Regions from separate parts of the Homo sapiens genome. Here all the other regions are reported to be linked to region 2. Evidence: microRNA targets listed by miRTarBase, many of them from high-throughput screens and not tested one by one. Region 2 holds a microRNA gene; each other region holds the end of a gene's coding sequence.

The links. Region 2 holds the annotated microRNA hsa-miR-203a-3p (GUGAAAUGUUUAGGACCACUAG, at 1,354-1,375, shown strand). A microRNA usually pairs through its seed, bases 2 to 8, with sites in the 3' UTR of a target mRNA and lowers its output. Matches are read on the target gene's strand: a 7mer-m8 pairs with bases 2 to 8, a 7mer-A1 pairs with bases 2 to 7 and ends in A, and an 8mer does both.
Region 1: the mRNA of THRAP3 is a reported target of hsa-miR-203a-3p. Seed matches in the 3' UTR shown: 7mer-m8 at 969-975.
Region 3: miRTarBase lists BOLA3 as a target of hsa-miR-203a-3p. The part of its 3' UTR that is shown has no 7-base or 8-base seed match.
Region 4: miRTarBase lists SPATA13 as a target of hsa-miR-203a-3p. Seed matches in the 3' UTR shown: 7mer-m8 at 435-441.
Region 5: the mRNA of TRIM71 is a reported target of hsa-miR-203a-3p. Seed matches in the 3' UTR shown: 7mer-A1 at 484-490 and 8mer at 3,710-3,717.
Region 6: the mRNA of BIRC5 is a reported target of hsa-miR-203a-3p. Seed matches in the 3' UTR shown: 8mer at 1,725-1,732.

What each region holds. Positions count from the first base shown.
Region 1 is chr1:36,303,400-36,307,470 of GRCh38, forward strand. THRAP3 (thyroid hormone receptor associated protein 3) reads left to right here. Exons shown (of 12, transcript NM_005119.4): 12 at 397-1,958. The coding sequence ends at 618. It overlaps SH3D21 (SH3 domain containing 21), which reads left to right and starts at 2,969. Exons shown (of 16, transcript NM_001162530.2): 1 at 2,969-3,025; 2 at 3,199-3,356; 3 at 3,443-3,506; 4 at 3,768-3,886. The coding sequence starts at 3,022. RefSeq lists silencers at 3,010-3,059, 3,280-3,719 and enhancers at 3,217-4,017, 3,820-3,869.
Region 2 is chr14:104,116,116-104,120,201 of GRCh38, forward strand. It overlaps MIR203A (microRNA 203a), which reads left to right and starts at 1,290; the gene lies at 1,290-1,399. It overlaps MIR203B (microRNA 203b), which reads right to left and starts at 1,388; the gene lies at 1,303-1,388.
Region 3 is chr2:74,132,148-74,136,225 of GRCh38, reverse strand. BOLA3 (bolA family member 3) reads left to right here. Exons shown (of 4, transcript NM_212552.3): 4 at 568-826. The coding sequence ends at 633. It also overlaps a transcript of TET3 not described here. Among named protein-coding and RNA genes, the nearest start is that of BOLA3, 14 kb to the left of the region's middle.
Region 4 is chr13:24,302,418-24,306,503 of GRCh38, reverse strand. It overlaps SPATA13 (spermatogenesis associated 13), which reads right to left. Exons shown (of 13, transcript NM_001166271.3): 13 at 1-3,906. The coding sequence ends at 3,731. Among named protein-coding and RNA genes, the nearest start is that of C1QTNF9, 5.1 kb to the left of the region's middle.
Region 5 is chr3:32,891,413-32,895,498 of GRCh38, forward strand. It overlaps TRIM71 (tripartite motif containing 71), which reads left to right. Exons shown (of 4, transcript NM_001039111.3): 4 at 1-4,086. The coding sequence ends at 399. Among named protein-coding and RNA genes, the nearest start is that of CCR4, 58 kb to the right of the region's middle.
Region 6 is chr17:78,222,967-78,227,045 of GRCh38, forward strand. It overlaps BIRC5 (baculoviral IAP repeat containing 5), which reads left to right. Exons shown (of 4, transcript NM_001168.3): 4 at 499-2,669. The coding sequence ends at 588. Among named protein-coding and RNA genes, the nearest start is that of TMEM235, 6.6 kb to the right of the region's middle.

The DNA.
Region 1 (4,071 bases), not on the chromosome of region 2:
TTAAGCACGTTTGCAGAGTGGGAGGTGATAATGATAGGGTAGATAGGAGAATTAAATGAGATAGTACATAAATGTCTTACTTCAGTGCTCAGTGACGTTTTTATTTTCTTTAAACTATTAAGGGTTCTTGCTCAGTGAATCATCATCATTGTCAATCATCGTTACAATGCCCAAGCTGTTACCTTAAAATTCCTAAATCACCCAACTGATATTCTCATGGATCTGAACCACTGGCATTTTTGGAGTGGGGGACAGGGAGAAGTGCAGAAAAGGATCAAAAGGCTGGGTTAGGGCACAGGTTCTTTTGGGAAAGGCACATTTGGGTGCGTGCAGAGAAGAGAGCTCTGGCCACATCTTGTTCACTCTGGCACTGATGGCAATTTTCTTTCCCCTCAGCATGATGACCGTGAAGGCGAAGGCAGTGACAAGTGGGTGAGCCGGGGCCGGGGCCGAGGAGCCTTTCCTCGGGGTCGGGGCCGGTTCATGTTCCGGAAATCAAGTACCAGCCCCAAGTGGGCCCATGACAAGTTCAGTGGGGAGGAAGGGGAGATTGAAGACGACGAGAGTGGGACAGAGAACCGAGAAGAGAAGGACAATATACAGCCCACAACCGAGTAGGGGCCACCCTTGACGGGATTCCTGCCCAGGGGAGAGAGGCGCTGGGAAGATGGCTGGTGAGGAGCTTAACAGAGGAACCTCAAGAAGATTCTGAAAATCCTACCCCCACCCCCCACCAGCCGCACAGATTGTACTACCGCGAGAGGCATCCCTGGCGCTGTCTCCCACTGGACAGAGGAGGCTGGCCATGGGGCCCAGGGGTCAGGCCCAGCTTTTGAGCAGAATACAACGCATTGGGCTTTAGCTGTTTTTCTCATTTGTTGGTGTGTGGGGTGGGGGCAGGGGTAGGGCGGGAGAGCGATGCTTGGATTTTTGTTTCCTATTAGAAACCAACAGTTTTGTTCTAATTTCATTTCATTTGGAGCTAAGATGACTAATTTGATGATTTTCGATCTCTTTTCCCCTGTCCTGATTTTAAAAGCCCCCTCCTTTTTTTTTTTTTTTTTCTTTTTTTAGGCATATGTAGTAATATTAGAAACATTTAATTTGGGAAACTTTGATTCTTGAAAGAGAAAACAAAAGCATGTGAATAAACTTTGAAGTGTTCACCTCAGTTTGGGACCAAACTGCTTGGATCTTTGTAAAAACCGGTTTTGTATGTCAAGGAGGAGTTTAAGGCCTTTCCGACCACCTTGTGTTCCCCTTTTCTGCGCAGCCATGTATCACGTGGAGTTGCTCCTTACCACACCTCACGTGCCCCTGAGCCCTATTTCCTGATTTCTTCTGGGCTGGACTTCCCCGTTCTCCACCAGCAGCTCCAGTATCCCAAACTTTCTAGTCCTGCTGATCCTCCCAGCAACGGGGTGGAAACTGGAGGGCAGTGTCTGGTCTGTTTTCTAAGAAACTTATGAATTCTATTATCTTTACAAATATGAGAAAATTTTTTCAATATTTTTTATTAATCTTTTTATAAAATGAAAAGAAACTCCTATGATCGATTAAGGAAGGTGGTTATGGCTGGGTGGTTCAGGGGTTTTTTTGGGTTTCTTTTTTTTTTTCTTTGTCTTTTTAACCTTAAGCTGTTTAAGTTGAAGCATTCTCAGATGTTTGGGGGGAAACATCCTCTTAAAATGGGTCCTTGTGCTTGCCTTCTGGGGAGGCGGTCCTGAGCAGGTGAATCATAAGGCATTTATGCATATGTTATATGCGGACTGCACCCACCTCTCCCCCCCAGCCTTTGCCTCTTGCGTTGTTGTGCTGCTTTCCCCTTACTTTGCTACATTTCTATAGTTAAGTTGGTTTTACTTGAATGATTCATGTTTAGGGGGAAAATGAAAATCTCCCTTAAAATTTGTTTCAACTCCTCCTGCAAATAAAATAAATGAAGTGGCAGATGTAAACGGGTTCTGTTCATTGTCATCCTGAGTGTGTGTGTGTGTTGAGGGTGGTAGATAACTTCCCACGGCAGTTTCAGAAAACCTGAAAGACAAAGGGCCTGTGGGGCCTTGCGCAGGCTGCTGGAGTCCCAGACAGACACAGTCCTTCCTGGGAGGAGCATTGTGTACCTTGGACACCCCAGGAGAAACAGATTTTTTCCACTGGTGTCATAGGCAAGGACTTTGGCTTCCTTCATCATGGTGGTGGGGCAGGGATCAAGGGATGTGGTTAGTAGGCTCAGCCTTCTACCTGAAAGAGCCTATCCCACATGGACTGGCCATAGGGTGGGCCCTAACCTTCAGACTCCTGCCGGCTGGGGACTCAACTGTGAGCAGAAATCTTGGAAGCTGGTAAAATTCATTCTCCCGGCCTAACTCCCAGGGAAAACCTGGAGGTGTTTTCTGAAACCAAACTAGACCTCTGGCCCCAAAGCAGGGGTCTTTGCTGTGTCCTTCCTATATGGGGGTAGAGAGTGGGTACGGGGCCAGAGAGGAGTACGCCTTGAAGGAAAGCAGACTGGAAGTGTCCACTCAAAGCTATTGCTGGTACAAGGGCAGCCACTTCATTCACTCAAGGCCGGTTTAGAGCGGTTGCTACTTGCTGGGGGGCCCCACCCTGGTATGTGCCTCTCCCCACCTTTTCCCCTCAAGCCAAAAGCTTGTGAGCTGGGGAAGGGTGGGCCTGGAAAGGCTCTGTGCAAATTGTAGCTGGGAGCCTCCGGGCAAAAGCTGAGGGAAAGGGAGAGGCGGCTGGCCTAAAATTTAGGTGGGCGGAAGAACCTGTGACGGAGCTGTGACCGCTGCACAGGCCAGAGACCCTGGAGTCCTCCTCACCCCGGGGTTGGGGGCCGGACCTGCTGAGCCGGGCCGCCCCCTCTCCACACCCACTCCCAGCACCTGGCCCGACCTATCGGCTGGCGGCTACGCCTCCTTTACCCTACTGTCTTGCCTCAGGTCGCACCCTGCGCGGGCCCAGTACTCGGCCGTCAGAGGGAGCTGCCAGGCTCTGGAGGGCGCCCCGGAAACCATGGGTAAGTGCGGAGGCTTTGAGGTGGCCTCTCTCTGCAACCGTGGACATAGCAAGAGCCCACACCACCCCCCGACCCCCGCTGCCCTCTACGGTGCTTGGGGACACGCCCGCCCTAGCCAGGCTGCCCGGCTGGGCCTTTCTGAGCCGCACGCCGGCCCCGTCTTCCGCCCGCAGAAGTCCTCGTCCTGGCCGGATACCGCGCGCAGAAGGAGGACGAGCTGAGTCTGGCGCCCGGGGACGTGGTCCGGCAGGTGCGCTGGGTGCCCGCGCGGGGCTGGCTTCGCGGAGAGTTTGGGGGCCGCTATGGCCTCTTCCCCGAGCGCCTGGTGCAGGTGAGGCCGAGCCAGGGGCGGGCTGTGGGGTCTCAGCGCGCGCCCCCCGGGAGCTGAGAGCGCCTTCCCCGTGCCCTGATTCCCAGGAGATCCCAGAGACCCTGCGGGGCTCCGGAGAGGCGCGGAGGCCGCGCTGTGCGCGCCGCCGAGGTGAGCGCAAGGGCGGGGACGGGCGCCGGTGGGCGGGTGCACGGAGCCAGTGCGACCCCGGCGTCTCCGGCTCTTAGTGACGGGCGCGGCTCTGGGCGGGACCTCGGGGCCGCCCTGCGGTCTGTGATTGGTTCTCGAGTGCAATGCTCCGCCCTGGGGCGGGGCTGGAGGGACCAAAGGCTACGTGCGCGCCTTGCGCTTCCCCCAGCTCCTCTGACTGGGGCGTCCGACTGGAGCTCAGCCGCGCTTGTCCGGTGCTAGGTCATCCTGCCAAACACCCGAGGCCCCAAAGATGGTGCAAAGTGAACTTCAGCTACAGCCCAGAGCAGGCGGACGAGCTGAAGCTGCAAGCTGGGGAGATCGTGGAAATGATAAAGGAGGTGAGGGGTGAGGTGATGGGACCGTTTGGGGGAGGATGATGGAACGCGCCTCCCTAGTGAGCGGGGTGGGAAGTGAGGGTGTGGACGGTGGGAATGGCGACGGTGCAGATACGGGGAAGCGCGGGAGGGAAGGAGGGAGGAAGGGGCGCTTGGGCAGAACCAAGGGTGGCAGATTATCCTAGGGA
Region 2 (4,086 bases):
TCTGGTCTGGGGCTCACCTTGGCTCCTGAGCACTTGGCTCCTGGCTGGCTGGGCGGGTGGTGGGATGGCGTGTCACCGCCCTGCACTGGAATGAATGGTCACCACCCTGCTGCCCAACCCCATACAGACACACTAATGGCTCCAGACTTGGGGCAAGTGCTGAAGGGGGCTCTAGGGTATTTCCTAGAGCCTGAGCCCTCCCCTCAGCTGCCATGTTCTGCTGAAGCAGAGTCCCTGGGAGGCGCCACTGGTCAGGCCTGGACACCTCCAGGTGACTAAGTGGGTAGGACCGGCAGGGCCAGCTGCGCCAGGACGTTCGGGGCTGGGCTGTGAGTGGGGGGAGCGAGGCTCAGGCCCTTGCTGCGTGAGGGGGTAGGGCGTCCCTCCCCCCGCGTGGGAAATGAGGAGGCAGGTACGGGGCTACCCCTGTGGGCTGCGGGGTGGGGGTTCAGGGTCTGAGAAGCAGAAACCTCCCTCCCTCCAGTTTCACTTTCTCTTTACCCCTCCCCTTCCCCCTCCCACGAAGTTCCCTTTGAAGTGAGAGGGGCTGGGGTGGGTGTGTCCAGCCCAGCCCCCACACCCACCGGAGAGCTAGCGCGGCCCTGGGCTCCTGTCGGGCGCTGGTCCTCACCTGTTCCGGCCACCCTGGGCCTCGACCCGGCCAAGGTGGAGCCCCGGGCCCTCCGTGCGCCCGAGCACCCCCGGCCCAGACGAGACGGTTCGGGCGTGGCCCGGCGGGGACCCAGAACCCGGGAGGCCAGGTGCGCCCAGGCCAGGCGCTGGAGGCTGGGGCGCCGGATGGGGCGGGGCGGCCGCTGAGTCAGGGCCACCCCCGCGCGGGCGCGCGGAGCAGGTCCCCGGGCCGTGGAGGATCAGTCGCGGGACCTATGGGCCCGGGAGCCGCCCCGCCCGGAAAAACCGGTCGGGCCAGCGCGGCGCGGGCACATTCCGGCGCCGGGAAGGGCGGCTGCGCCGCATAAAAGGCGCCGCCGCGCTGGCCACCGCCGCTCGGAGCTCAGCCGCCCTGCCACGCGGGGCCCGCGGGACGAGGGGACGCCGGGGCCAGCGAGGACGCGGCGGGGCTGGGCTTGGCGGCTGGGATCCCCCAGCGCCAGGCGAGGGCGTCTAAGGCGTCCGGTACGGCGTCGGGGCCGGGTGGCTGCAGCAGGGCAGGGGGTGCGCGACCAGCGGGGATCTGGGCGCAGGGGCCGGTCCCCGGGATCCGCAGGCGACGCGGGCGGTCCCAAGGGCGTCGGGGGCTCCTCTCTCCGCAGCTCGGCGAACCGACGGTGTTGGGGACTCGCGCGCTGGGTCCAGTGGTTCTTAACAGTTCAACAGTTCTGTAGCGCAATTGTGAAATGTTTAGGACCACTAGACCCGGCGGGCGCGGCGACAGCGACGGAGCGTCCCACGCGCGGCCTGGAGTCAGAGTCACAGTCAGGGGTGCGCCGGCGACCAATCCAGGGGAGCCCACGGACCGGCTCCGCGCTCCAGGTCGGCCGCCCCATGCGCCGCGCCCCGCAGTCCCCAGGGCCTGGCTGGCTCCACCTGCTGCCAGGGAAGACCCTCGGCCGGAGAGCCAAGTGCTGCTGGGAGGTGGCCGGGCGTGGCCGGGCTGTGCTGTGGGAACCGCTGGGTGGGGGCGCGCTGGGTTGCCCACGCTCCTGGCGCGCTGCCGGCCTGGAGACGCCGCCGCCGCCCTCTTGCACCCCGAGGGCCCGCACCTCGAAACTCCGTGGAATTCCCAGCGAGGAACTGGCGGTGGGCCCGTAGGGTTGAGGAGCGCTCCTTGCCCTGGGCTTCCTGGGAGCTGCCCATCAGGCTGCCGGCAGCCGCACCCTGCTGGGCGGCCGATGGTTCCCGCTGCCGGCTCCCCGGAGCGTCTCCACTCACTGAGGCCTTAGGGAGCGCTGCGCGGCTCCTACGAGTGCGCGCTAAACTCGTGAAGGACCTCGAGGCACAGGAACTGGGGGTGGGGAGGAAGTTTGCAGACTACACCCAGGTAGAGGAGAAGCGGCGCCCATGATGACAGGTGCCTTCGCCGGAGCCTCCCTGGAACCTCGTGGTAGCTAGCGCCCACAGGAGAGGTGTGCGCGTCAATCTGCGTGTGAAGCCCCGGGCGGCCCTGGGAGGGACTCAGCAAAGGGTCGAATCTGTCCCCACCTCCAGCCAGGGGCCGGGGTCTTCTGCCTGGTGCTGCCTGGCCTGCTGTGTCCTCTGGGGTGGAGGGTCCCCCTCCAGTCCCCACCTCCTCACCCAGTGTTTAGAGAGCTGCGGGGAGTCCTGGGAGATGGGTCAGACAGGCCTGGGTTTGAGGCCTGCTAGGGTGGCCTTGGGCCAGTCACCTGCCCTCTCTGAGCCCGACCTGCACACATAGGGGGTTGATGTGAGGAGACAGGAGGTGACTGTGGAGGGCTGTTCCAGAAGAGGGCCAGCAGCAGGACAGCAAGGTCCCCTGGCCACCCAGGTGGGGGGAGTGGAGTTCCCGGGAGAGCATCCACCACTGGCCAGTGCCTCCTCTGTTGCTCAGCAAATGCCATTGTGGCCACCTCTCAGGATCTGGCTTCAGAGCTTGGGGCCGTGGGAGCGCCCAGTGGGTCTGTGGCATCGGAGGGGTTGGAGTGTCTTCCCCAGCTGCTGCCTGCTGACCACCGCAGCCCCCTGTAGCCATTTCATTTTACAAGCACGTTCCCCCGTGCCCTCTGCATGGGCCCTCAGCCCTCAGCAGCCCCGTGAGAGGGGCTGAGGCTCAGGTGGGAGATGGCGGCTGTGTCCCTGTTCTGCGGCTTGGAGGCATTCTGTCCGGTGTGCGTCTGTACAATTTAGACTGATGACAATAAACATGTTCCAAAGCATCGCTGTGTCCCTGGGGTGCTTGTCCTTTTCCCCCAGGCCTCAGCGTGGTTTCTCCCTTGAAAGCAAGCCAGCCTTTTCCTTCTAATCTCAGAGAAGCAGAAATGAGGATGGTTGGTGGAGGGGCAGTGGCCTGGTCCTTACCCAAGACCCTCCCTCAACTCTGCCTCTGGCACTTTGGTCTCCAGGGAAGCCCCCAGCCTCTGCCACCAGCTTTCTCGTTGCAGTGACCTCCCCTGGGCCACTGGGCCAGACCCCCTCCCTCGGGTTTGAGCTGCACTGCCTCAAGGAGCCAGGCTGGGGAAAGGGCTTGGCTCCCAGGGGCCCCACTTTCAGGGGCTCCAGCCTGCTCCCACTCCCCCCACTCACCACAACACTGCTCCCTTGGCTGGCTCCCACTCATTCCCGCTGGAGCCTGTAGGCTGGCCCTGGGGACCTGGCCAGGAGAATGGGCAAGGTGGGAGGGTTGAGGGATTGAAGAGACAGAGGCACCTTCCTCCACCCTCCCTGCCTCTGGCACAGGGGACCGAGAGTCTGTCGTGCATTCAAACCCCAGCTCTATGCCTACAAGCAAGTGACCTTGGCAAGTCCCTTATCCCCTCGGAGGACCTGTTTCTTCCTTCTGTAGGATGACGTGGAGCTCGCTGGAGGTTCCCCTGACATGATGCAGCACACTTCCTGAGTGCTCAGCAGGGCAGAGCTCAAGCTGTCACTGGAGCTGATGTGGTGGGAGGGCCAGTGGGGGATCCTTGAAGAGGCCGAATTTCAGCCAGGGCCTCGGAGGACCAATGGAAGGCCTCAGGTGGCAATGAGGTGTGGTCTTACAACAGGCCCCTACTTGGTCCCTGGGGACACCAGGAGGACAGGCCCCTACTTTGCTGAGACTAGACCTGTGCTTCCTGGCACCCCAGCCCCTCCACTCCGGCCTCTCCAGCCTCTGCCCCTGACCCAGGTGGAGGATGGCTCCTCGGGGTCCATTCCTTCAGCCATGGAATTCCTGAAGGGAAGCTGGGCACGTGGGGCTCCTGGGCTGCTGGTGGAGACACATGCCACCTCTACACAGGGGAGTGTGAACAGAGGCAGATGCAACTTCTGGGTGGAACTGGGGCACTGTGGTGCTGAGACGTGCCGACTGTGCTGCTGGAGGGCCACGCCGGGGCAGGGCAAAGCATCCCTGCATGAGGCCGACCCACCTGTCCAGGTGTGCCTGCGTGTTTCCTGATTTGGCACCGA
Region 3 (4,078 bases), not on the chromosome of region 2:
GTAATTCCGGCACTTTGGGAAGCCAAGACAGGCAGATTGCTCCAGTCCAGGAGTTCAAGACCAGCCTAGGCAATATAGTGAGACCCTGCCTCTACAAAAAATAAAAAAATTAGCCAGGCATGGTGGCATGTGCCTGTAGTCCCAGCTACTAGGGAGGCTGAAGCAGGAAGATTGTTTGAGCCCAGGAGGTGGAGTTTGCAGTAAGCCGATATCGCGCCACTGCACTCCAACTTCGGCGCTAGAGCGAGACCATGACTTAAAAAAAAAAAAAAAAAAAGATACACAAGAAACTAACAACAGTTCTTTTGGGAACAAGGGTGGAAACTGGGGAGATGGACAGGTATAGGAGGGAGACTTCCCTGAATGCCTTTTTGTACCTTTGAATCTTTAAATCATGTTAGATATTATTGATTTAAAAAAAATTGTTTTTCAAAAAAAGGAAAAATTGCTTAAACAAAGCACATACAAAGTCTCCTTCAGATGCAGAGCTGTATAAAAATACTCTCAGAGAATTACTGTAATCAACGTCAAATACACAAAAACTGATGATGCTGTTTTCTTACTTAGGCACTAAAAGAAGAAATCAAAGAGATGCATGGATTGCGGATATTTACCTCTGTCCCCAAACGCTGACCACGCCCTGGCTGCATAGATGCTGCTGCTTAAGACCTTGGATGAACTTCACTGACATCATTCTTCCCTAAGCAGTCACCAAAAAATTTATATATTTTGCTCATATACATTTCCATATTATAATTATAGAAGATGTATAATCTATTTAGATGTTAATTAAAGGAAACAAACAACTGAAGCTTTTGAAGGGTCATTAGTAATGTTTCAGGTTCCTTTATTTTGGCCAAAGGGGTCTTGTCTTTAGACAGTTCTGTCCTGCTACAGAGAGAGAATGCAGTGCCAGCTTTTTGTCTTTTGAAGAGGTTTTCCTGTTTCTTCCCCTCCACGAAACTGCTCAGGCCTCTTCATCTTACTGAAACAAAGAAAAGATCCTTTACTATTGCTGTTCTTTTCGTTTATCATTCTTTTCTTCCCCCTCTAAACTTCTTACATGAATGATCTTGGACCCTCAATTTCTTATGCTCTGAAATGGACTCTGAAAATTTGGGGGTGCCAGGATCCGGGTTCTTTTCCTGTGTTTGAAGATCCTCCACCCTTTGATTCTTGGTAGGAGGCAGAGCCCACCTCCCACGACAGAAGCTGAAAAGGCTTACTTTCCCTGCCTCCCTCACAGCTGAGGCACAGGCAGATATTCCAGACTCAGCCAATCAGATGGACCTGCCCTGAACTTGGGAGCAAGTCACACCGAGGAGCAGGGACAGTGGGACATCCATTCCTGCTGCAGCCATGGCTACAACATCTGGTGTTCTGGATGGTGGTAGTGGCAGCTGATTGAGTACTATAAGCTGCTCTCTCTGGAGTCCATGGTGGTGGTCACGGTGTCTGGGTCTGCAGTGTGATTTGGGCTCCAGCCACGGAGGCTTCCTTGTCCCTGTTTTCAGCAGCTGGCTCGCCAGTTTTCTCAGACATCTTGTGACTGCCCCCACAGACTTTCACTAAATTATTTTCTGCTCCCATCAGCCAGCACCCATGTTACCATGGCAGTGGGAGGTTGACCATCCACTCCTCTCTCACACTCCTTTGCCTTTCATGGAACCGACCACCAGAGAAGTTAGGGGTCACTATTGGTTCTGAAGGTACCTCCCTAAGAAATGAGGACATGAAGATATAACAACCTTGGGCCCCAGATTTTTGAGGGCAGAAAAAAATTTCAAATATTCTGTTCATACATTGTGCCCCCGTTTTGTAATTTTAAAATATTCTCTATCTGCACAGTGGGGTTGGGAAGGATTGGTACCTGCCAGGGCAGAACTGCCTCTTACAAGCAGTAGAATCACTCAGTTGTATCAGAGCTGAGAAGGTTGGGACAAAACAGAGAACTGTGCCTGAAGGCCCGAGCCACCTCTGAAACAGCTAGACACCCCAGGGACGGCTTTCAGGTGATACGGTGAGGAAACACCCAAGCTTGGAATCCCAGAGGCCAGCAGGACGGCAGTGGTCAGTGAGAATGGAGAGACCTCAAAATTAGACACACTGATTCCCTGCGTGGAACCTATTTGTCTTTCTCTTAAGAGTGGGCTCAATATGGTGATCTTCTAAAGAACAGAATAGGCCAGGCGTGGTGGCTCACACCTGTAATCCTGGCACTTTGAGAGGCCGAGGGGGGGGGATCACAAGGTCAGGAGTTTGAGACCAGCCTGACCAACATGGTGAAACCCCGTCTCTACTGAAAATACAAAAATTAGCCAGGCATGATGGCACGCGCCTGTAATCCCAGCTACTCAGGAGGCTGAGGCAGGAGAATCGCTTGAACCCGGGAGGCAGAAGTTGCAGTGAACCAAGATTGTGCCACTGCACTCCAGCCTGGGAGACAGAGCAAGACTCCGTCTCAAAAAAACAAACAAAAAAACAGAATAAAGTGAAAGTGACCTGCAGTTTCAGAGAATACATCATGTAGGGCACAGTGGCTTTCTCCTTGCTCTCTCCCTTGGATTGTTTGCTCTGAGGGAAGGCAGCCATGTTGTGAGGACACACAAGCAGCCTACAGAGAGGTCCATGTGGTGAGAAACTGAGGCCTTTTACCAACAGCCAGTCAAACAGACCTGCCAACAGTCAGCACAGAATGAGGCCTTCTGCCAGGACAAGAGCCATGTGGGTGAGCCACCTTGGAAGTGGATCCTTCAGCCACAGTCAAGCCATCAGAAGATTGCAGCCCCAGCTGGCATCCTGACTGCAGGTTGAGCCACAGCCACTCAGCTGAGCCACTCCCCAATTTCTGACCAAGAGAAACTGTGAAATACATATATGTGTTTGTTGTTTTAAGCCAGTGTTTGGGGTTACATTTTTATGCAGCAATTGATAATTAATATGTTTGTTCATTACTGAAGGAACACGGGGGACTCTCACTTATTGACAGACGGGTTGAAGAGCCAAACTTCGGGCTGGGCACGGTGGCTCACGCGCGTAATCCCAGCACTTTGGGAGGCTGAGGTGGGTGGATCACTTGAGGTCAGGAGTTCAAGACCAGCCTGGCCAACATGGTGAAACCTTGTCTCAACTAAAAAAAAAAAAAAAAAAAAATACAAAAATTAGCCAGGCATAGTGGCACATGCCTGTAGTCCCAGCTACTCGGGAGGCTGAGGCAGGAGAATCTCTCGAACCTGGGAAGCAGAGGCTTCAGTGAGCCAAGATCACGCTACTGCACTCCAGCCTGGATGACAGAGCCAGACTCCGTATCAAAAAGAAAAAAAGAACAAAAAAAAAGAAAAGAAAAAGAGCCAAATTGCAGAAAGGACACGGGTCCAGCTAAGAGTCAGGAACACCAGTGCCACTGGGTCTCCCCTTCATCTGCTGTCCCTTCCTCTCTACAGATCAGCTTTATTATCTCTCACTCTAGATTGGCATCTGCCATACAGTGGTGACTTGAATGCCAGTACCTCTTAATTTATATATTTTAATGTCCAGTTCAGCCAGATGTGGTGGCTCACATCTGTAATCCCAACACTTTGGGAGGCAGAGATGGGAGAATTGCTTGAGCCAAGGAGTTTGTGACCAGCCTGGGCAACAAGTAAGACACTGTTTCTACAAAAAATTAAAAAAATGCCAGTTGTGGTGACATGCACCTGTAGCCCTAGCAACTCTGGAGGCTGAGGCAGCAGGATCACTTGAGCCCAGGAGTTTGAGGCTGCAGTAAGCTGTGATTGTGTCATTGCACTCAGCCTGGATGGCACACAGTGAGGTCCTGTTCAGGCCGTGGGAAGAGCAGACTTTGTTTTCAAGTCCCCAGGACGGCCTCTGTTTGGCTCATCTTGAATTAGGAGCCACCTGGCCTAACGCGTTGTAAGAGCAAACTTTCTTTTGGAGTTCCCAGGAAGGGCTCTGATTGGCTCATCTTGAATTAGGAGCCACCTGGACTAACCAGGTGGGGTCCAGGGGGCATATAAAATTGCAGCCTCTAGCTGGACTCTGGCTTGAAGTGGAGAGAGAAGGCGTTACCAAAAGAAGA
Region 4 (4,086 bases), not on the chromosome of region 2:
TAGTTTCACCTAGTTGACTTGGGTCCTCCATTTCTGGCCTGTGAGCTGGTGAAAGGACATTTATTCATACTTCTTGACACTCCTTTGAGGGACAATTCTAAGTTTCTTCTCTCCCTGACAAGTAATAGTGCAGAAATACTCCCCCTAACTCCAGGTAATTATGCTGTTCTATTCTGACTGGGACACCAAGTTGATCTGCATGAAGGAGTATCAGCAATTTGGCTTGCAGAGATTTCCACCTGATAAAATGCTGGTTCAGCTGGCTTTTACAAAATACTTATATTGTGAACCAAATTTTGAATTAAATGCACTTTGCTTTATGTCTAGATAACAGTCATGTAGGATGGGGGGATTTTCTGAATAAGAATGGCATCGGTTTTCATCTAGGCTAGGTATAAAAAGGCACAATATTCAGAAATAGTGTTTGATGGTGGTGAAATGTTTTCAACTACAAAATCAGATCTACAGTGGGAAACAAAAATCAGATCTAATGAAAAGAAACCATGTGGCTGGTATCCCAGGGAAGCTCCAGCATACTACTGCTGCCCTCTTTCTAGTCCGCAGGCCAAAGACAAAGAAATCTACTGCTCCAGGATTCTGCAAACATTCAATTTTATGATTTTATAATTGCTTTTAATCTACGGCAGGGTTTTTATATGTTTTAGGTATGATCACAATTGAAAAGGTTGCTTTTGACCCAAGGCTACTTCAATTATCTTCTAACAAAGTCGACCAATTCTGAAACGTGAAGAATGGAATAGGTGAAATTCATCAAAATGTTATGTCATCTTTTCTTTTCTTGGCCCATCTATAATATTATGTAAAGTAAGGTTAAAAAGAGAGAAAGGCATAGAGGCGGGAGAGAGCAAGATTCCCAATGAAATTCATACACTGTCCATGGAGGAGGCTCTCTGTTCCCTTTCTTTCCAAGTGGAACACGTGACTCAAATCAGGAAGGAAGTTTGGCAAATGGAAGATGAGAATACTTGAGCCTTCCATTCTTGAAGAACTCAGGCATGTGGTAATAAAACCCAAGCCAGACATGCAGATTTTCAAGAAGTCAAAGGATGTTCTAGCCTTTTAAAAATGTTAGCAGTTTTCAAAATCACCTGAACATCCAAGTAGGATCCACCCAGGAGAGATCTTTAATGGAGTGACCCTCACACTCTATAAAACTGACAGGGGCAACGAATTGAACCTGACTTAACAAAAACACATCCTGGTATTCATAAGTCTCTGTTAGGAAGTCCGTGGAGGTAGGTGGGAGCCGGAAGTTAGGGCTCAGCTGGAAAATAAATTAGGACTGGCCACAAAATGCAAACCATTTCTTCATTACCCATGAATAAATATTAGGAAATGGAAGTCCTAAGAATGACTCTTAAACTGAATCCTCACTGAAAATGTAACACAAGCAAATGATTCTCTTTACTTCCTTAAACTAATTCTCTTATATTACATTTAAAACAATTTGTTCAAAATTGCTGTACATACAAACAACTCTAGCAGAGACCCCTACAGTTATTGCTAAGGTGTGCAGGAAAAGCATATTAAGTAGTTTCCAACATATATCATTGTATTTTGTTAGTAAAAAGGTCAGTTCTATAAACACATCTAAAGTTGGAATGTCTGTTCAAGAAGGAAACATACACACACACACCCCCACACATGCCACAGGACCTCTCCAGAAGCTCCTTCCTGCAGCAACTTCTGTCTCAGGACGTGCCGAGCGGCATGATGGTCCACAGAAGCAACTCGGGCTGTCAGCCATGGGGCACCTGAACCCTTAGCAGTGCTGCCTGTAAGCATGTGTGCCAAGGTGGCTCAGAATGGACATCAGGCGGTCACAGAATGTTCCAAGGGTTCACCTGAGGACCAAGGTTATGTTTTCTTGATGCATGATGTCACTCTCAGGAACGGCTCTGGATGTGGGGGGCTGCAGGGGAGAAGGGAGGTGCCACACACCTGCAGACTGAAGAATACACCTTTGTCTCTGACATCACAGACTTGTTTATTCTCAAACATGGGCCTGTTAGAAAAAAAAAAACTGCAGGGATAGCATACAAAAATGAGCTTCTCATATAGATATCCATTAACAGTTTAACACAGCATCTCCTGTCCAGGGCACTGAGCGGGTTGAAAGGGCACCTCTCTTGCAGAGCCTGCCTTCTCTAGACATAGTTAAAAGTTATATCATGAAAATGTACAACATAGACAAAGAAAAGGAGATGATTATCTGCAGGTGTCAGCCTAGGTGGCCTTTGTTAATAAAGACTGCTATCTCTAAGCCAAGATATTTTGTGAAGGTCTTTTTTTATAAAGAACAAGTCCTCAGAAGCCTGATGACATGCTCACGTGACATGGTTATGCCCTGTTTGGCTTTATATGTGATAAAGGCAGCTTCTGATTTCCAAGAAGCAGGACTGCTTTGGCTGTCTTTGTGACTTCATTGCTAAGGACGATGTCAGGAGCAGTGCGGCTCTTTGAGAGTGCCTTCTGACCAGTGCATTTTCATATTCACTGTATCATAAATATTACAGTAAATGAGCTTTTTATATTGCAAACAGTTGTTTGAATGTTTTTTGTTTTTGTTTTTGTTTTTGGAGACAGTCTCGCTGTATCTCCCAGGCTGGAGTGCAGTGGTGCGATCTCAGCTCACTGCAACCTCCGCTTCCCAGATTCAAAAGATTCTCCTACCTCAGCCTTCCCAGTAGCTGGGATTACAGGCATGCGCCACCATGCCCAGCTAATTTTTGTATTATTAGTAGAGACTGGGCTTTGCCATATTGGCCACGCTTGTCTCGAACTCCTGACCTCAGGTGATCCACCTGCCTTGGCCTCCCAAAGTGCTGGGATTACAGGCATGAGCCACAGCACCCAGCCTTGCATAGCAGTTTCTTAGGTTACAGCATGTGGGCAAGATGTGATTTCTGCTCGGAGTTACTGAAGGCGTGCAGGCAGGAGGGAATCCGACTCCGGGACAAAGCCAGTGTGCAGCAGGATTTCTCCCTCCTTGCCTGAAAAGCAGTGGATTCTTGAGGATGCGTAAGTTGCTCTGCACTGAGGACCCTGATGAAGGTGACAGATGCATCTTCTTTCTCTCCACTTTGCTTGCAGGAAGAGGAACCTTGCAGGATGACATTTGCACTACCAGTTAGCATCTGTGTGGACACAGACGATGCCAGGGAACACCGTGGTCAGCCCCACGGCAGCTGTAGGTCCCCCAGTATTACAGAAGAGAGTAAGAGCTCAATTTCTAAGTGTGACCAGACACGTGCAGCATTGTGTCAACCCCGTCTTGACGGCATCCTTGAAAATCAAATGCAGAAGTGATCCTCTAACCTCATCACTCCTTAGGAACTGCAAAGCCCTGGATGCTGTGTTTGGACCTGCAGCAGGCACTTGCTCATCATCAGCAGGGGTGGCTTCAGCTGCTGCCTAATCACTCGCTTTAGAGCATGGTACCGGGTCCCACATCTGGGCCATCTCATAGTGGGTCACGGGTGTTTCTGTGTAGGATAAAGCTTTGTGTCATGACCGTCTCCTCCCTTCCACAAAGGCAGCTGGGTCTCCAAAGACTGAAGGTGATTCCAAGACCTTCTCTCCTTCATTGATCCCTAAAAGGAAGTTTTTATCACTGGGTCCAAGAAACTTTCCCTGGATTGAAGCACACAAGAAACAAAGACAGTTCTTCTCTTGACACCCAGCTCCATGGAAGCACAGCCTCCTGTTTTCATTTCCGGAAGGGGGTGAGCCTGTTGAAGGTGTGCCAGAAGAGCGAGGACTTCCTCTTGGGTTCCGCCAGGCCAAAGACCTGCTGCTGGGGGACGCTTGTGGGCATAGTGATGTGGCGCTGGTGGATGGGGTGCAGGCCCTGGTGCGGTGGGGCCACAGGGCACCTGTTGTAGCCTGACTCGGGAGGGGAGAGAGATGGAACAGGGACTGAGGGTCGCTTGTTAACCAGAAAGGAAAAAAATAAAAATGCTGAGACTCCAAGTCCAAGTTCTCAGCTAATTCTTTTTTTTTTTTTTTTTTTTTTTTTTTTTTGAGACAGGGTCTTACTGTCACCCAGGCTGGAGTGCAGTGGTG
Region 5 (4,086 bases), not on the chromosome of region 2:
TATGGCTTCGAGGGGGCTCTCTGGAAGCACTTTGACTCCCCACGGGGTGTGGCCTTCAACCATGAGGGCCACTTGGTGGTCACTGACTTCAACAACCACCGGCTCCTGGTTATTCACCCCGACTGCCAGTCGGCACGCTTTCTGGGCTCGGAGGGCACAGGCAATGGGCAGTTCCTGCGCCCACAAGGGGTAGCTGTGGACCAGGAAGGGCGCATCATTGTGGCGGATTCCAGGAACCATCGGGTACAGATGTTTGAATCCAACGGCAGCTTCCTGTGCAAGTTTGGTGCTCAAGGCAGCGGCTTTGGGCAGATGGACCGCCCTTCCGGCATCGCCATCACCCCCGACGGAATGATCGTTGTGGTGGACTTTGGCAACAATCGAATCCTCGTCTTCTAATTGCATTTCCTAGGTTTCTGTGTTTGGGGTGTGTGTGCGTGTCTCTCTCTCTCTCTCTCTCTTTCTCTTTCTCTCTCTTTTTGAATTTCAAAGAAGAAACAGTCTCAGGGAAATTTCTTTTTTCTTTTTTTTTTTTAAAGAGAACAAGAAAAGTACAACATTGCTTAAGTCCTACCTCATCTTTATTTTTTTACAGATGAATGTACTTATCTTTTCTGCAGGGATTGAGCCTGTGAAGTGATAATTTCTATCTACCTCATAAATCTTTACATTTCCTTCTGCAACAGGCCCTCTTCCCCTCCTCAGTGGAGTTTGCATTTCCCTCTTCCCCTGCGTGGGGCATGATATGCACAAGCCTGGCATCTGTATGGCTGGGAGGGCACTGGATGTGTGTGGTGGGGTGTATTCTGTAGATTGAGCCAAGGAAACACAAAAAAAAACTACTAAGTAAAAAAACAAAAAACTATAAAACATGGAAAAAATAGGATTTGAAATGCATAATTATAGAATACCTGTGTTCTTGAGAATACTGTTTATATGGGGTTTAGATTATGTTGTGTTGTTTTGATCTTTTTGGAAAATCTTCTCTTTTTAAATGCTGCAACAGAGAAATTTCCTCTGTTCTCTGTTTATACCTCAGTGTGTTTAACATCCTCTTCTGCATCGTTTCTTGATCTTAGACGTTGTGGCTGTGGCTTGCTAGCCAAGAAAAGCAGACCCTTCATATTTTAGGGTATATAATCTTTGTTTCTTTTAAGGGAGGGTGTGTGCATGTTTGTTTCAAAGCCATCTTGCACCCAAGTAGTAAAGCTGAAAATGACACACTGCCTCCCAAAGAACCTCTCCTTTTCACACTTTGGTTTCTTAAAAAAGTATATAGATGGTAGCTCAGGATTTTTGATTAAACATATTCTCAAAAGTTATGCTTTCTTATTTTGCTGTTAGGTTATAAAGGGTTAAATGGAAGGAAAAAGGAAATTAACCTCGTTCTCAGAGAGAGGGTTTTCAGGCATGGGCTGACGTGGACATGAATGTGGGTGGACATGCGTGTGCTGAGGGAGTCAGGGAGCACATTAAAGAACAAGGCACCCCCAAACTATAGGAACTCCACAGAAAGGGCAGGGTCTGCCCTGACCCGCGAGTGCATGTTGTTCTGTAGTGCTAGGGGTTTCTTTTCCTAAGAAGAGTAGGCAAAGGAAAGAACTTTTATTTTACAAGCACAATTTTTTCCTGCTTTGAAAGTTCAGGGAAATAGAAGGTTTGAAAGTCAAATTAATACCAACAGCCCAGTCCCACACCCTCTGCTTGGGTCACTTTTTATAGGATTGTTTGCACCCAGGCCATGCTTTAGGACCTCATGGTTAACATGAATCCCCCCGCCCCCTCTCCCCCCAAGGCCTTTGACCATAAAGGATCTAGAAACCAAATTGTCCCAACCTGAAATGTAGGATGTAATGTCTTTTCTTAAACCTGTAACTCGGTACCAAAGAATGAAAATTTAAGGCTCCCACTGCAGAACTGTGGGGTAGAATCTGTGTCACTTTACAGGATTGGTTGGTTGTAAGCTGGACTTGGGTACAAAACTTGTGCTTCTGGGCATTGTCTGTCTTTCAAGTGCAAAGCAGATGTAGCTGATACCCTGCTTGTCAGAACCCAGTGGGTTCCTGCAATGCCCCAAATACTGAAATAAGAACCAAATTCTGGAGGAGCCCTCCTCAGGGAAAAGAGGGACTCTCAAACAAACGTCAGTGACTTACAAGGGAGACCTCTTGTTTAAAGACTTATGGATCAACTTCTGTTCCTCTGTTTAAGAGAAATTTCTATTGCAAAATGGGTATCGTTTTAAATGAGCAGAACAGATTAACAAATGGAGCAATTTGTTTCTGTTATCCCAATAGAAAAGGAGATGATGGGGACAGTGTGACAAGTCAATCAAGTTGCTTTTCCCGTACACCTCTTTTGGACGTTTAATTTACTACTACTACAAGCTACTCTGTCTCTTCCCATTGCTTTAATTCTAGGGTTTCTGAGTGACCAAAATGGGAAGGAAAAAAAAAACCTCATCTCACAGAGGAGAACTGCATGCAATAAAAGATTCAAAAGTTGGAAAGTAGCTTCAAACTGCTGCTGGCTCCCAGCTGCTGTTACAGGGTGGGAAGGTGTTAGGAAATGTTGTTTGTTAGAAGCTCCTTTTACTGTAGAATTTAATAGTGAATCCTTCCCCAATGCCTATTCAGTTGCCTTTTGGCCGTTAAGCTCTAAGTTCTTTGGTAAAGAGTTAATATAATTAAACATTTTTACTGTTTTCTATTTTGGAGTAACTTGGTGCTGATCTTCCTTCCCTTTCCCCAGCTGCCCAACAAGCCACCCTTTAAACACCAAAGACAACTGGTTTTAAATGCTTGAAAAAAATTTTATTGAGGAGATGGATCTTGATTAAAATCTTTTCATCATCATTTTCATTCTGCTCTTTTCTTTCTAATTTCCCCAGATGTAGGAAAATTTTGGGACCTGAATGAGAAATGTTCTTGGTGCATAACAGTAACTAGAGCTCCTTATTTGACATTTTACTATGGATGTGATCGAAAAGCCAAGATTTTCGCTCCATGGCTGAAATTATCAGGTCTTAATTTACAGACTTGTAAATTTGCAGGCTTAGAGCAACTAGAACTATCCCCTGAAATAGGTGTGTAGGTCAGAGATACTACCTCTTTGTCCTCAGTGGTGGTATATCTATCTCCTTACCTTTCTGTACCCAAAATGGTGCATGACTGGTATTTGAGAAACATGGTCACATTTGGAAAGCTTTTGTTTTTAAAACATTGGCGGTTTTTCCTGCCCGTGGTTGACTCCTGACCCATAGGGATTGGTGCGAAGCACTTTGGAGAGTGTTTATTGTATGATGTGAAATGTTCTAAATCAAAGAAAGATGATAAAAGCCAACATTTGGCAGTCCCTAGTGTGAAACTGTGAAAAGTACCTGTGTTTAAATGCATAATCTCCTGCCCGGGTAATGCCAGGTAGCCAGGAGTTGGGTCAAAGAAGGGAGTCGTCATCCTGATGGAAAAAATAAGGTCCTGGGTATTATGAGGTAGGAGAATAAAAAGGTTTCTGGGGAGTAAGTATGACAATTACTAGTCCCCATGGAGGTCTGATCTGGTCAGGTGGCAAGGGTTGGGTGGGGTATGATGTAAGCTCAGTTTATGTGTGGAGATGCCCATTGGGTTTGGATATATAGGTTTGAGTATTGAGATGTTTAAAGGACATCTAACCCATAGGTAAAAACTACTTTTGCTTGACACTGACTTAACATTTCAAAAGTGTTATTTTTGGTCCCAAGATCTAATGCTGTCTCAGAACATGTGCCCTGTTGTGGCTGCAAGTGGCACTCAAGTTGACTAGAGCACAGTGACCTGGGTTGTACCCCAAGTGCACTAACTCCTCAATGCCCTTTTAAGTCTAACTTATTTGGGAAACACATAACAAAGGGTACCATAAACCGAATCCAAATTACGTGTTGGGCCAAAAATGTTGCCAGAACTGAGGCACTTTGTGATGGAGTTGCAAGAGATAGCTTGAGATCGGCTCAGTCTGATTTATTCTAGTTAAGCCAAAGCTTAATTATTTGAGGAGGAAAGTCTTTTAGGCTTGAAGCAGCAAAATACTGTTTATATATGTGTTACCTTC
Region 6 (4,079 bases), not on the chromosome of region 2:
TTTCCTCCAGGAGTTTCAGGAGAAAGGTAGGGCAGTGGTTAAGAGCAGAGCTCTGCCTAGACTAGCTGGGGTGCCTAGACTAGCTGGGGTGCCCAGACTAGCTGGGGTGCCTAGACTAGCTGGGTACTTTGAGTGGCTCCTTCAGCCTGGACCTCGGTTTCCTCACCTGTATAGTAGAGATATGGGAGCACCCAGCGCAGGATCACTGTGAACATAAATCAGTTAATGGAGGAAGCAGGTAGAGTGGTGCTGGGTGCATACCAAGCACTCCGTCAGTGTTTCCTGTTATTCGATGATTAGGAGGCAGCTTAAACTAGAGGGAGTTGAGCTGAATCAGGATGTTTGTCCCAGGTAGCTGGGAATCTGCCTAGCCCAGTGCCCAGTTTATTTAGGTGCTCTCTCAGTGTTCCCTGATTGTTTTTTCCTTTGTCATCTTATCTACAGGATGTGACTGGGAAGCTCTGGTTTCAGTGTCATGTGTCTATTCTTTATTTCCAGGCAAAGGAAACCAACAATAAGAAGAAAGAATTTGAGGAAACTGCGGAGAAAGTGCGCCGTGCCATCGAGCAGCTGGCTGCCATGGATTGAGGCCTCTGGCCGGAGCTGCCTGGTCCCAGAGTGGCTGCACCACTTCCAGGGTTTATTCCCTGGTGCCACCAGCCTTCCTGTGGGCCCCTTAGCAATGTCTTAGGAAAGGAGATCAACATTTTCAAATTAGATGTTTCAACTGTGCTCTTGTTTTGTCTTGAAAGTGGCACCAGAGGTGCTTCTGCCTGTGCAGCGGGTGCTGCTGGTAACAGTGGCTGCTTCTCTCTCTCTCTCTCTTTTTTGGGGGCTCATTTTTGCTGTTTTGATTCCCGGGCTTACCAGGTGAGAAGTGAGGGAGGAAGAAGGCAGTGTCCCTTTTGCTAGAGCTGACAGCTTTGTTCGCGTGGGCAGAGCCTTCCACAGTGAATGTGTCTGGACCTCATGTTGTTGAGGCTGTCACAGTCCTGAGTGTGGACTTGGCAGGTGCCTGTTGAATCTGAGCTGCAGGTTCCTTATCTGTCACACCTGTGCCTCCTCAGAGGACAGTTTTTTTGTTGTTGTGTTTTTTTGTTTTTTTTTTTTTGGTAGATGCATGACTTGTGTGTGATGAGAGAATGGAGACAGAGTCCCTGGCTCCTCTACTGTTTAACAACATGGCTTTCTTATTTTGTTTGAATTGTTAATTCACAGAATAGCACAAACTACAATTAAAACTAAGCACAAAGCCATTCTAAGTCATTGGGGAAACGGGGTGAACTTCAGGTGGATGAGGAGACAGAATAGAGTGATAGGAAGCGTCTGGCAGATACTCCTTTTGCCACTGCTGTGTGATTAGACAGGCCCAGTGAGCCGCGGGGCACATGCTGGCCGCTCCTCCCTCAGAAAAAGGCAGTGGCCTAAATCCTTTTTAAATGACTTGGCTCGATGCTGTGGGGGACTGGCTGGGCTGCTGCAGGCCGTGTGTCTGTCAGCCCAACCTTCACATCTGTCACGTTCTCCACACGGGGGAGAGACGCAGTCCGCCCAGGTCCCCGCTTTCTTTGGAGGCAGCAGCTCCCGCAGGGCTGAAGTCTGGCGTAAGATGATGGATTTGATTCGCCCTCCTCCCTGTCATAGAGCTGCAGGGTGGATTGTTACAGCTTCGCTGGAAACCTCTGGAGGTCATCTCGGCTGTTCCTGAGAAATAAAAAGCCTGTCATTTCAAACACTGCTGTGGACCCTACTGGGTTTTTAAAATATTGTCAGTTTTTCATCGTCGTCCCTAGCCTGCCAACAGCCATCTGCCCAGACAGCCGCAGTGAGGATGAGCGTCCTGGCAGAGACGCAGTTGTCTCTGGGCGCTTGCCAGAGCCACGAACCCCAGACCTGTTTGTATCATCCGGGCTCCTTCCGGGCAGAAACAACTGAAAATGCACTTCAGACCCACTTATTTCTGCCACATCTGAGTCGGCCTGAGATAGACTTTTCCCTCTAAACTGGGAGAATATCACAGTGGTTTTTGTTAGCAGAAAATGCACTCCAGCCTCTGTACTCATCTAAGCTGCTTATTTTTGATATTTGTGTCAGTCTGTAAATGGATACTTCACTTTAATAACTGTTGCTTAGTAATTGGCTTTGTAGAGAAGCTGGAAAAAAATGGTTTTGTCTTCAACTCCTTTGCATGCCAGGCGGTGATGTGGATCTCGGCTTCTGTGAGCCTGTGCTGTGGGCAGGGCTGAGCTGGAGCCGCCCCTCTCAGCCCGCCTGCCACGGCCTTTCCTTAAAGGCCATCCTTAAAACCAGACCCTCATGGCTACCAGCACCTGAAAGCTTCCTCGACATCTGTTAATAAAGCCGTAGGCCCTTGTCTAAGTGCAACCGCCTAGACTTTCTTTCAGATACATGTCCACATGTCCATTTTTCAGGTTCTCTAAGTTGGAGTGGAGTCTGGGAAGGGTTGTGAATGAGGCTTCTGGGCTATGGGTGAGGTTCCAATGGCAGGTTAGAGCCCCTCGGGCCAACTGCCATCCTGGAAAGTAGAGACAGCAGTGCCCGCTGCCCAGAAGAGACCAGCAAGCCAAACTGGAGCCCCCATTGCAGGCTGTCGCCATGTGGAAAGAGTAACTCACAATTGCCAATAAAGTCTCATGTGGTTTTATCTACTTTTTTTTTCTTTTTCTTTTTTTTTGAGACAAGGCCTTGCCCTCCCAGGCTGGAGTGCAGTGGAATGACCACAGCTCACCGCAACCTCAAATTCTTGCGTTCAAGTGAACCTCCCACTTTAGCCTCCCAAGTAGCTGGGACTACAGGCGCACGCCATCACACCCGGCTAATTGAAAAATTTTTTTTTTTGTTTAGATGGAATCTCACTTTGTTGCCCAGGCTGGTCTCAAACTCCTGGGCTCAAGTGATCATCCTGCTTCAGCGTCCGACTTGTTGGTATTATAGGCGTGAGCCACTGGGCCTGACCTAGCTACCATTTTTTAATGCAGAAATGAAGACTTGTAGAAATGAAATAACTTGTCCAGGATAGTCGAATAAGTAACTTTTAGAGCTGGGATTTGAACCCAGGCAATCTGGCTCCAGAGCTGGGCCCTCACTGCTGAAGGACACTGTCAGCTTGGGAGGGTGGCTATGGTCGGCTGTCTGATTCTAGGGAGTGAGGGCTGTCTTTAAAGCACCCCATTCCATTTTCAGACAGCTTTGTCAGAAAGGCTGTCATATGGAGCTGACACCTGCCTCCCCAAGGCTTTCATAGATCCTCTCTGTACATTGTAACCTTTTATTTTGAAATGAAAATTCACAGGAAGTTGTAAGGCTAGTACAGGGGATCCCGCATACCGTTCTCCTCCTTTTCCCCGTTGTGAGGACAGTGCACTGTATTCACTTTCAACATCCAAGGTCTGTGTTGAGAGGGTGAGTTGTGCGGCCCAGCTTGCCCCAAGCCCGTCTTGCCATCACGAAGGATTTCCTGACTCAGCTGAATCTAGCTCAACAAAGCAAAGGACTAACTAAGCTGCAGATTTTCTCTCCGCTGGGCTTAGCCTACATTATTTACACCTGTTTTCAGCTGGATGGGACCAAACTGGGGCCTTGACTTCTGGGGTTTCCACGTGATCCCCAAAGAGGAGACATCCATTCATTCACTCAGGTATTTGCTTGTGCACCTACTGTGCGCCAGGTGCCAGATCCAGGAATTGAAGCCCAGGAACAACTCTTGCAGTGAGCTCCCCGGGTTTTTGTTTTCTGAACGGTGGGAAGACAGGTCAGCAAATAGCCATGCACGTCTGCACATGTGTGGCTGGTGTCTGCAGGAGTACCGAGAAGACGGTGAGCTCTGCCCTGGATGGCAACAGGAAAGGGCATCCCTGTGCAGCTGTTTGTCCTGGCACAGGTGGCAGGCTGCCAGCGGGACCAGGAAGGGAAGGGGAGGATGCACAGGTCGGAGGGAACGGAACGGGCACTGCAGGTGCGCTCTGCGATGTGAGGAAGGAAGCAAAGGCTGGTTCCGGGATGATGTCGGAGAAGCCTTGCAGCCTAGGGCACTGCCCATTCCACGTTACCCAGTGAGT